Regions from separate parts of the Homo sapiens genome. Here region 1 is linked to region 2. Evidence: fine-mapped expression QTL. A gene starts in region 2. The other region holds a variant in brackets. All regions are shown on one strand. Distances are between the middles of the regions.

Region 1 (5,374 bases), 280 kb before region 2:
CTGCCACATGGCAGAAGCCAGGTGGCAGTGATGGTGGTGGGGGAAACAAAACACACAGTCTCTGGCAAGCCCCACCGGGAAAGGAGGGCTCAGAAGGCGTAGCGGGTCCGGATATCCTCGAGTTTCTTGGACACTTCGGGTGGGGTTCGGTCCAGTTCTTCAGAGACGTTCTTTTGTTTGTTGGGTTCCATGGAATTGAACTGCTCACAGAGGTCTCCATCAATCACATTCTAAGATATGGAGAAAGCAGAAAGAAAAAAAATGGTGAGATGCCCAAAGAAAATGGCACATGCTAAAGCAGCACTTGTAGGGAAAGCTGTTTTTATTTTTTAGTTTTTGAGACAGGGTCTCACCCTATCATCCGGGTTGCAGTGCAGTGGGATAATCTTAGCTCACTGCACTCTCAAAATCTGGGGCTCAGCCTCCCGATTGGCTGGGACCACAAATGTGTGCCACCACGCCCAGACCGGGAAAACTTTTTATTCTCCACTCGATACTTGAACCCCACTTGTAGATCCAGGAACACTATCTTAAGTTGACTCTTGGTACTCAGAGTTCAGATTGGCAGAAGCAGGTGAAGCCTTTGCTCTGGCTGTGGTCTGCCCTGAGGGGAGCACCCTCCCTGGTACTATTCCCATCAATCCACTCCCTGTGCTGCTCCTTTCTCAGATCTCCCTTTTCAGCTCAGATTCCCCCAACCTACCTTCACAGGGAAGTAGTAGGAGCGAAAGCTGAGGTGGTCCCGCCCACAGAGAGGGGGATGTTCAGACCGCAGGTGCATTTCCACATGCTGGAAGAAGTCATGGTCCTGGCAGAAGAAACAAAAAATCTGTCACTGAGAAGTGATTTCAACTAGTCTAGAGTTTCCACAAGCACAACGAACAGACAAGCCATTCATTTTTACTACACAAACACACGGGAAATATCTAATCACTTTCTGATAATCACAGGTTTTTCTGCTACAACACGATAGTTAAACCCCAAAAGGAGACCACATGTTGTCTGCAGTGCAAGAGAGAATGCCACACATAAAGAATGGTTTGTGAGGTCAGATTCCTGATCCCAGCTTCCTTGGCTGGAATAAAACATGCCAAACTCTGGCAAACCTAGAGTTGATTCCATATGGCAGTGTGTGCCCCAGGAGGGATCATCCCATCAATCCTGGCAATCCTAGTCTGTGGAGTCCAGTTCTAAAGCTCTGGGCTCAGGCTAACCTTGTAAACTCGCATCAGACTGAAGCAAACCCTGGGACACTATAAAAACAAACGGCCTGGCCGGGCGCGGGTGGCTCACGCCTGTAATCCCAGCACTTTGGGAGGCTGAGGCAGGCGGATCACAAGGTCAAGAGATCGAGACCACCCTGGCTAACACGGTGAAACCCCATCTCTATTAAAAATACAAAAAATTAGCCGGGCATGGTGGCGGGCGCCTGTATTCCCAGCTACTTGGGAGGCTGAGGCAGGAGAATGGCGTGAACCTGGGAGGTGGAGTTTGCAATGAGCTGAGATTGCGCCACTGCACTCCAGCCCGGGTAACAGTGAGACTCCGTCGCAAAAAAAAAAAAAAAAACCAAATGGCCTTCCCTGGGTGCGGGAGAATCAAGATTCCTATCTCCCCAAGTACTTCTGTCACTTTATAATTCCCAGAACATTATTAATTATATGTGGGGACAAATGAATTTGACCTCTTAGGTAGATCCAGCACCAAGAAACAACCTTAAAAGTCAAGGCCAGAGTAATGTGGGCGCTCTCACCTCATGGGACGTGAATGGCACAAGGATGCCAATTCCTCCAGACAAGGTGGTATAGACAAGTGATTCTGAGCCTCCAGGGATCAGCGTGGTCTTCTGCAAGGACAGCACCGTCTCCCCGACATGGTAGTTCATGATCACCTCTGCCTGTGAGTCACAAACAGACTAGTGACTGTGTGCACCCTCAGGAGCCTCCCTGGACTCCCAAGGGCAAGCAGTGCTCCCTAAGGCACATTTCATCATCTATTAACATCCAAAAATTATTATAGAGGCCAACGTGGGAGGATTGCTTGAGCCCAGGATTTCAAGACCAGCCTGGGCAACACAGTGAGGTCTCGTATACCCATACCCACAAAATCTGCCAGGTTTGGTGGCATGTACTATAGTCTCAGCTACTCAGGAGGCTGAGTGGGAAGGATCACTTGAGCCCAGGAGGTGGAAGCTGCAGTGATCTGTGATTGTACCACCACACTCCAGCCCGGGCGACTGAGTGAGACCTTGTCTCAAAAACAAACAATAAATCCAAAAATTATTAAACCCTA[C/T]AAATATTTTAAAATTCTCACATTTACTTAAAGCTTAATGCCTCATAAAACATGCTAAAGTTACTGTTCATCATTTCTTACGATAAGAATCATTTTGTTAAATTTATCAAGCTTGCCATAAAAAAGGAAAACACAAAGAAAATTATAGAAAACAGCAATCACTAGGCTTGTCTTCTAAAATAGATTTGCCCGAAAGTCCAGAGATGCTCTATTAAAGCAGCACATGCCTACAGGAGAAAGTAAAGCCCAGGACACACCTCAGAGCAGAGGACTGGGAATGGACTCTCTCTAAGAAACTCGCTACTCTCCAAGGAGATTTTTTGCAGATTGGTAAGAAAGGACTGTGGACGGACAGCACTCAGCACAGTCGTGTGCACTATGAATAATTCACCAAAGGCAATTTCTTCAGTGAGGGCAACAGGAAAAGTGCTAAGCAGTGTTCTCCCTGGGGCCCATTCTGCAATCTTACCTTCTGGGAGGCCCCATTGAGCAAGCCACGGTCCCACAGGGCTTTGTTTCCTGTAGGATCCTCATCTACTTCATCATTGGTGTTAGGTGGGAGCCTCACCTACAAGGAAGTGACACAAGTCACACTGCTGGGGCCCGGACCTGCTCACCTGAGTCACCAAGCAACAGGTCTGGCCAGGTCTTTGCAAGTCAGCCACAGGGGCACTGCCTAGACAGAGGCCTGAGCCCACGTGTCCTGCACCTGCTCTGGTGGGCAGGAGCTGTGTCTGAGGAGCAAGAAACTCAAAAGAATCGACCCATGAGCAAGAGTTTAACACAGCTAAGGGTAAAACCAAAACCACACAACATAGATAACAGACATTCCAAAGTTCTTATAAAATGTAAAAAGAAATATTAGCCATTAGCTCAAACTAAACCTATCATTAAATCACGTTCAATAGGGAGGAGGGAGATAAACCACAGAGAAAAATCCAAAAGACTAGTAAGAAGGCTTAAAGAACAGATTGCTTGTAGAGTTAGCTTTAGTAGGATGGAATTTTATATCCATTTTTACTTCTCAGATTTGATTCCTCCTTGGCTTTACCCACAAGAAACTGAGCCAGCTTTCCTACACATCACTGTAACCCAAGTTAACAACATCAACTCACCACACATATGTTGCCAAACTTGTCTGCCCCAGCCACAGTGTCATAGTCCAGGAGGCTGGCTGTAGTGACCCATCGGGGGTAGGTATCATCAGCAAAGATGATAAGCTGGTTTTCATTACGCTTGTAGCGAACCCAGATGAAACTTTCTTGGACATCAGATACAATTACCCTATGTCCGATAGTCTGGATCCCAGAGATATAATTGGCAATATGCTGGGAAAAACAAAGACAATAGTGATGGTGGGTGTAATCTTGGGGTTCAGAACCCAAAGAAAGCCCAGCTTTCCGTATGACATACGTAGGGTCAGCAGAACAGCAAATACCAAAAACCAGCAGTTAGCAATGAATTCTAGGTGGGAAAAAAGAGCCAAATAGCTTTTAATATAGTGCAAATATATGCCTAACTCTCACATTTACTTTCCTTATAGAAGCTAGCAAGATAGAAAGCTGGTTCTTGTTTGGTAAGTCAAGAAATGAGATCCCTCTACTCCTGCTCCTCTCAAAACTCAAGGGCCGGTGCGGTGGCTCACGCCTGTAAACCCAGGACTTTGGGAGGCTAAGGCGGGTAGATCATGAGATCAGGAGTTAAGAGACTAGCCTGGCCAACATGGTAAAACCCTGTCTCTACTAAAGATACAAAAAATTTGCCAGGCGTGGTGGCGCGCATCTGTAATCCCAGCTACTTGGGAGGCTGAGGCAGGAGAATCGCTTGAACCCAGGAGGCGGAGGTTGCAGTGAGCCGAGATTGCGCCACTGCACTCCAGCCTGGGCAACAGGGCGAGACTCCGTCTCAAAAACCAAAAAACAAAAAAACAAGGGCATAATTCTGAAGCTGGAATTGGGGTAACACAACAAGTCCTAATAAAGATAAGATTTTAAAACTCAATGCCCACCACCCCACCAATGCCCCCACCCTTGACACATGAGCTAGATCTCAGCACCAATGCCAGCACACTTACCTTATTCTCACATTTTCGGAGTAACTTCTTCTTTCCCAGGTCATAGACACGCAACAGCTTCCCCACACCAATCAACACCCTCCCCTGGAATGGGGCAATAGCAGCAGGGACCTCTTCCACAGGAGTCTATAGAGGAAAAGCAGGTAATACAGCTATTATAAATGCCAGCCAGACACAGGCCTCACCTCTCTGCCCAGAAATGCCTACTTCCACAGGAGCCTATCATTAAGAAACACACCAGTGAGCTTATTTTGCTAATGAATCTGGGTGTTGGGGTGAACAAGTTCCGCATGCTGCATTCACTCAGTAGAGGGATCAATGCTGTAACTGACAAGAAGTTCTGGTACCAGACGACTGCTGTCCAGAGCTTGTGCTCTGTTTAACTGGTGTTATTTCAACAGTGAAGCCTTAGTAGCCAAGTGACTGTAATTTGTGGAGGGACAGGAAAGAAATGCTAGTGAAAAGTGACTTTTTTTTTTTTTTTTGAGACAGGGTCTCACTACTGCTCAGGCTGAAGGGCTGTGGCAGGCGCAATCATGGCTCACTATAGCCTGGACTTCCTGGGCTCAGGTGATCCTCCCACCTCAGACTCCCGAGTAGCTGGGACTACAGGCATGTGCCATCAAGCCTGACTAATTATCTGTATTTTTCGTAGAAACTGAGTTTCACCACATTGCCCAGGCTGGTCTCAAACTCTTGGGCTCAAGTGACCTGCTCGACTCAGACTCCCAAAATGCTGGGATTACAAGCGTGAGCCACTGCACCCAGCCTAGTGACATCTCAGTTGTAAAGGAGAGACAAATTTAATATGCAAAAGGGTCTATGAAGTATTTCTTAGAGGATACTCCCCTTATGGTAGGGTTGAAGGAATCCACATGCTGTCATTGTGGAGAAGAGAATATTCTTTTTATTTTAAAAATTATGGTAAAATAGTCATAACATAAAGTTTACCATCTTAATCCTTTTCTTTTTTTTGAGACAGAGTCTCGCTCTGTCACCCACGCTGGA
Region 2 (5,374 bases):
AGAACTTGCCAGTAGTTTCCTAAAATACATAATTTGCACATTGCATTAAGATAGCATTCTTTCTAGCATGTAGTTGACATCTACAAGAGAAAAATATCACAGAAAAATATCATTAGATAATTATATTAGAATGAGACTTTTGGGCCTCAATTACAATTTCTTTCTTTTTTTTGTTTTAAGAGACAAGGGGGCCGGACGCGATGGCTCACGCCTGAAATCCCAACACTTTGGGAGGCCAAGGCAGGCGAATCACCTGAGGTCGGGAGTTCAAGACCAGCCTGGCCAACATGGCGAAACCCTCATCTCTACTAGAAATAGAAGAAAAAAAAATAACTGGGCGTGGTGGTGGCGCCTGTAATCTCAGCTACTCGGGAGGCTGAGCCAGGAGGCAGATGTTGACATGAGCCGAGATCATGCCATTGCACTCCAGCCTGGGCAACAAGAGTGAAACTCTGCCTCAAAAAAAGGAAAAAAAAAGAGAGAGAGACAAGGGTCTTGCTTTGTTGCCCAGGCTGGAGTGCAGTCGCGAGATCTCAGCTCACTGAAGCCTTCAGCTTCTGGGCTCCAAGTGATTCTCCTTCCTCAGCCTCTTGAGCAGCTGGGACTACAGGCGAATGCCACCACGCCTAGCTAATTAAAAAGAATTTTTTTTTTTTAACAGAGTCTCACTATGTTGCCTAGGCTGGTTTCAAACACTTGGGCTCCATTGATCCTCCTGCCTTGGCCTCCCAAAGTGTTGGGATTACAGGTGTGAGTCTCTGTGCTGGCCTACAATCTCTCTTAATGGGTGAATAAAAAATTCTTATTTATTTATTTATTTATTTTGAGACAAAGTCTCGCTCTGCGGCCCAGGCTGGAGTGCAGTGGCCTGATCTCGGCTCACTGCTAGCTCCGCCTCCCGGGTTCACGCCATTCTCCTGCCTCAGCCTCCAGAGTAGCTGGGACTACAGGCGCCCGCCACCACGCCCGGCTACTTTTTTTGTATTTTTTAGTAGAGACGGGGTTTCGTCGTGTTAGCCAGGATGGTCTCAATCTCCTGACCTCATGATCTGCCTGCCTAGGCCTCCCAAAAGTGCTGGGATTACAGGCATGAGTCACCACGCTAGGCCAAAAAATTATTTTAATCTGTTTATAATTATTTTATTAATGAAGGTACTATCCTAGTAACAACTCTGGCAGCAGAACTAAATTATTGAGATTACAACCTGTATTATTTTATTCTGAAAGTACAATTCATACATACCTTTTGGCTTTCTATTTTAAGTGTGGTGGCTTAGAAGTCTGACTCATTTCCCAGATTGTTTAAGCTAAATATATGTTATTTAGGGCACTGTGGATCAGAATAAACACTTGTGTCTCCTGGTTTTGCCCTCAGCTGTGTTACTTAACCTCTCTCTCTGCCTTATTTTACTCTGTTAAAAGCAGATAGTAGTAGTAACTCATGATAAGGTTGTGAGGATTAAAAGCTTAGATTGGTGCCTGCTGTATACTAAGTGCTCAATAAATGGTAGGTTTGATGATTACTATTTGTGAGCAGCTATGAAGTGGGAAAGTAAATCAAATGATTTATGTTTTTACTGGCTTTTGGGCTTGACCTTCTTTTTGTGTAGGATGCTCTTTTTGCATAAAAAGTAGTATTTTTCTGTATTGTCTGTAACTTGAGTTATGACCAGCAGCACAATTTATTACCCGTGTATTTGGATATATCAGATGATGGAGGTAATAGTGCAGTGGTTAAGAGCATGGGCTTTGGAGTTAAATAGACACAGGTTTGGATCCTGTCTCCACAACTTACTATTGGGTGTGAACTTGTGCAAGGTAATTTCCTCATTTGTAAAAAGGGGACTCCAGCTGACCTCATACACAGTTTAAAAATCAAATGAAATAAGCATGTGAAATGTTTGATGCAATGCCTCACGTATAAATACATACATATTTTTCAGACAGGGCCTCGCTCTGTCGCCCAAGGAATGCAGTGTCACGATCAGGGCTCACTGCAGCCTCAACTTCCTAGGCTCAAGTGATCCTCCCACTTCAACCTCCCAAGTAGCTGGGACTACAAGCATGCGCCACTATGCCTGGCTAATTTTTATTTTTTATTTTTTTTTTTGAGACGGAGTCTTGCTCCGTAGCCAGGCTGGAGTGCAGTGGCGCCATCTCGGCTCACCGCAACTTCCGCCTCCCGAGGTCAAGGGATTCCCTTGCCTCAGCCTCCCGAGTGGCTGGGACTACAGATGCGCGCCCGGCTAATTTTGTGTTTTTAGTAGAGACGGGGTTTCACCATGTTGGCCAGGATGCTCTCGGTCTCCTGACCTCGTCATCCGTTGGCCTCAGCCTCCCAAAGTGCTAGGATTACAGGTGTGGGCCACCGCGCCCGGCCTTTTAAAAAATTTTTCGTAGAGACAGGGTCTAGTTATGTTGACCAGGCTGGTCTCCAACTCCTGGGTTCAGGTGATCTTCCCACCTTGGCCTCCCAAAGTGTTGCAATTATAGGCGTGAGCCACCGCACCTGGCATGTATATATGTATATGTATATATATATATTCACCCTCCTCCCCCAGGCCTATAAATATTAACTTTTTTTTTTCCAAAGGCAAATCGAGGACCAGATGCTGATCCAATCGTACCTGAACTACTGATGTTATTTCTTCCACACCAAATTCAAGGTCTCCCCCGGACAAGTGTAACCATGGGCACAATGTCAGACTCTTTGAGGGCTGTGTATCACTCAGCAACTAAAATAAACAACTATAGCAAGATATGTAACCTCTACCAAACACGTTACCGTCTCCCCTTTTTAACTATGTCAATTGTGGTGTTAGGACTTTGCCTATGGAAACCAAAATGTCGACCTCCGGGAGCCGGGGGCGGGGGGGGGCGGGGGGGGCGGGGGGGGGTCTAACTCGATCATGTGACGCACCCCATCCCACCTTTTCTCGCAGTTGCATCAGCCAAGTTAGAGCCGCCTTCCCAGGAATCCACTAATGAACGGATTCGTCCTCAGTTTGACTGGCATGTTGGTTGACCAATAATATCTCATGAGGTAAGGCGCGGCGGGGCACTTTCCGTCGGCGCGCTCTGATTGGACGGAGCGTGGCGGGTTGTGGTAGGTCGTGGTCTGAGGCCGGTACAGCTGCGCGTCTGCGGGAATAGGTGCAGCGGGCCCTTGGCGGGGGACTCTGAGGGAGGAGCTGGGGACGGCGACCCTAGGAGAGGTAGGCCGCCCTCGGAGAGCTCTGCGGTGCTAGGAGAGCGGCTGGGCCCGCAGACTGGGGGGAAAGCTCCGCAGCCGCAGTGGGCCCCAGGATCAGGCCCCGCGTGGCCTGGAGAAGCCCAGTCTGGGCTGGAGCGGGAGCTGGACAGTGTGGCCTTGCGTTCGCCCCCGGGAGCGCTGCGAGTGTCGCGGCCTCGGGTGGATTTGCTGAGCACCAATACCTCACGGTTGCCAACCTGGGGTTTTAGCTCCCTTGGTTTTAATCCCCTAGGGGCGGGTGGGGGCACGGGAGGAAGGATGGGCCAGCTGGGTGCAATCCTGCTGTAAGCCAGCCATTCCTTGATTTCTTAAAATTAACTAAACAGCTGATGCCGGTCCAGGCGCACCGAGACCGTCATCTTAAGCTGTTCTGTAAAACAGTTTGTATTTCTCGGTGTGCTTTGAAGCATGTGAGTTAATTCCGAACTTGGTGTTAAAGGATTAGTATACCTGATCACGAAATACGTATTTAGCAGCCACTGTACTAGATGCTGAGGATGTGCTGTAATAGCCCAGGGCCAGGCGCGGAGGCTCACGCCTGTAATCCCAGCGCTTTGGGAGGTCGAGGCGGGCGGATCACCTGAGGTCAGGGGTTCGAGACTAGCCTGGCCAACATGGTGAAACCCCGTCTTTACTAAAAATACAAAAATTAGCCGAGCGTGGCGGCGCGCGCCTGTACTCTCAGCCACTCCGGAGGCTGAGGCATGAGAATCGCTTGAACCCGGCAGGCGGAGGTTGCAGTGAGCTGAGATCACACCATTGCACTCCAGCCTGGGTGACAGAGGGAGACTCCGTTTCAAAAAAAAAAAAAAAAAAAGAGCCCAGAACAGTCGTTGCTGCTGGGATGGAACTGACAGCCTGATGGGGGAGGCGCACATTAAACAATCCATGAAGCGCGTATGGAAATTATGAAGGGAAACACTTGAGGCTGTGAGACAGTAAAAGAGGGGGAGCCTTATCAAGAAGGGGAAGGCGGCCGGGCGCGGTGGCTCACGCCTGTAATCCCAGCACTTGGGGAGGCCGAGGTGGGCAGATCACGAGGTCAGGAGATTGAGACCATCCTGGCTAACACGGTGAAACCCCATCTCTACCAAATATACAAAAATAGCCGGGCGTGGTGACTGGCGCCCGTAGTCCCAGTAGTCCCAGCTACTCGGGAGGCTGAGGCAGGAGAATGGCGTGAACCCGGGAGGCGGAGCTTGCAGTGAGCTGAGATCGCGCCACTGCACTCCAGCCTGCGCAACAGAGCGAGACTCCGTCTCAAAAAAAAAAAAAAAAAAAAAAGAAGAAGGGGAAGGCTGTCTTAAATAAGTGTCTTGGCCGGGCGCGGTAGCTCACCCCTGTAATCCCAGCACTTTGGGAGGCCGAGGCGGGCAGATCGCCTGAGGTCAGGAGGTCGAGACCAGCCTGACCAACATGGAGAAACCCCGTCTCTACTAAAAATACAAAATTAGCTAGGTGTGGTGGCACATGCCTGTATTCCCAGCTACTCAGGAGGCTGAGGCAGGAGAATCGCTTGAAGCCGGGAGGTGGAGATTGCGGTGAGCCGAGGTTGCGCACCATTGCACTCCAGCCTGGGCTACAAGAGCGAAACACCGTCTCAAAAAAAAGAAAAAGTGTCTTTACGTTTGTTGTTGTTTGAGTCAGGGTCTCACCCTGTTACCTAGGCTGGAATGTTTTGGTGTGACCATAGCTCACTGCAGCCTCAAACTTATGTGCTCAAGCGACCCTTTGGACTCAGCCTCCCGAGTAGCTGGGTCTGCAGGTGCACACCACCACACCTGGCCAATTAAAAAAAAAATTGACCTCCCAGGCTCAGGTGTTCCCATGTTGCCCAGGCTGGTCTTGAATTCCTGGCCTCAAGCAATCCTCCTGTTTCAGCCTCCCAAAGTGACAGAGCGAGACCTGTGTGTAAAGCCTGGGTGACAGAGCGAGACCTGCCTCAAAAAAAAAGTTGAAACAGGTCTCGCTTTGTCACCCAGGCTGGAGTGCAATGGCATGATCTCGGCTCGCTGCAGCCACCGCCTCCCAGGTTCAAGCAATTCTCCTGACTCAGCCTCCCAAGTAGCTGGGATTACAGGCGCCCGCTACCATGCCCAGCTAATTTTTTTTTTTTTTTTT

Evidence for each region. PIP is the estimated chance that this variant, and not a neighbour inherited with it, causes the effect.
Region 1: its variant is the best candidate, but not a certain one, in a credible set for the expression of AARS1 in blood mononuclear cells (TOPMed, PIP 0.59).

Annotation. Positions count from the first base shown.
Region 1 is chr16:70,566,529-70,571,902 of GRCh38, reverse strand. It overlaps SF3B3 (splicing factor 3b subunit 3), which reads right to left. Exons shown (of 26, transcript NM_012426.5): 21 at 4,367-4,492; 22 at 3,408-3,620; 23 at 2,762-2,860; 24 at 1,754-1,897; 25 at 704-808; 26 at 1-230. The coding sequence ends at 90. Among named protein-coding and RNA genes, the nearest start is that of SNORD111, 31 kb to the right of the region's middle. The variant C/T (reference allele first, on the strand shown) is at 2,293.
Region 2 is chr16:70,287,262-70,292,635 of GRCh38, reverse strand. AARS1 (alanyl-tRNA synthetase 1) reads left to right here and starts at 3,130. Exons shown (of 21, transcript NM_001605.3): 1 at 3,130-3,215. It also overlaps a transcript of DDX19B not described here. RefSeq lists a silencer at 3,785-3,914.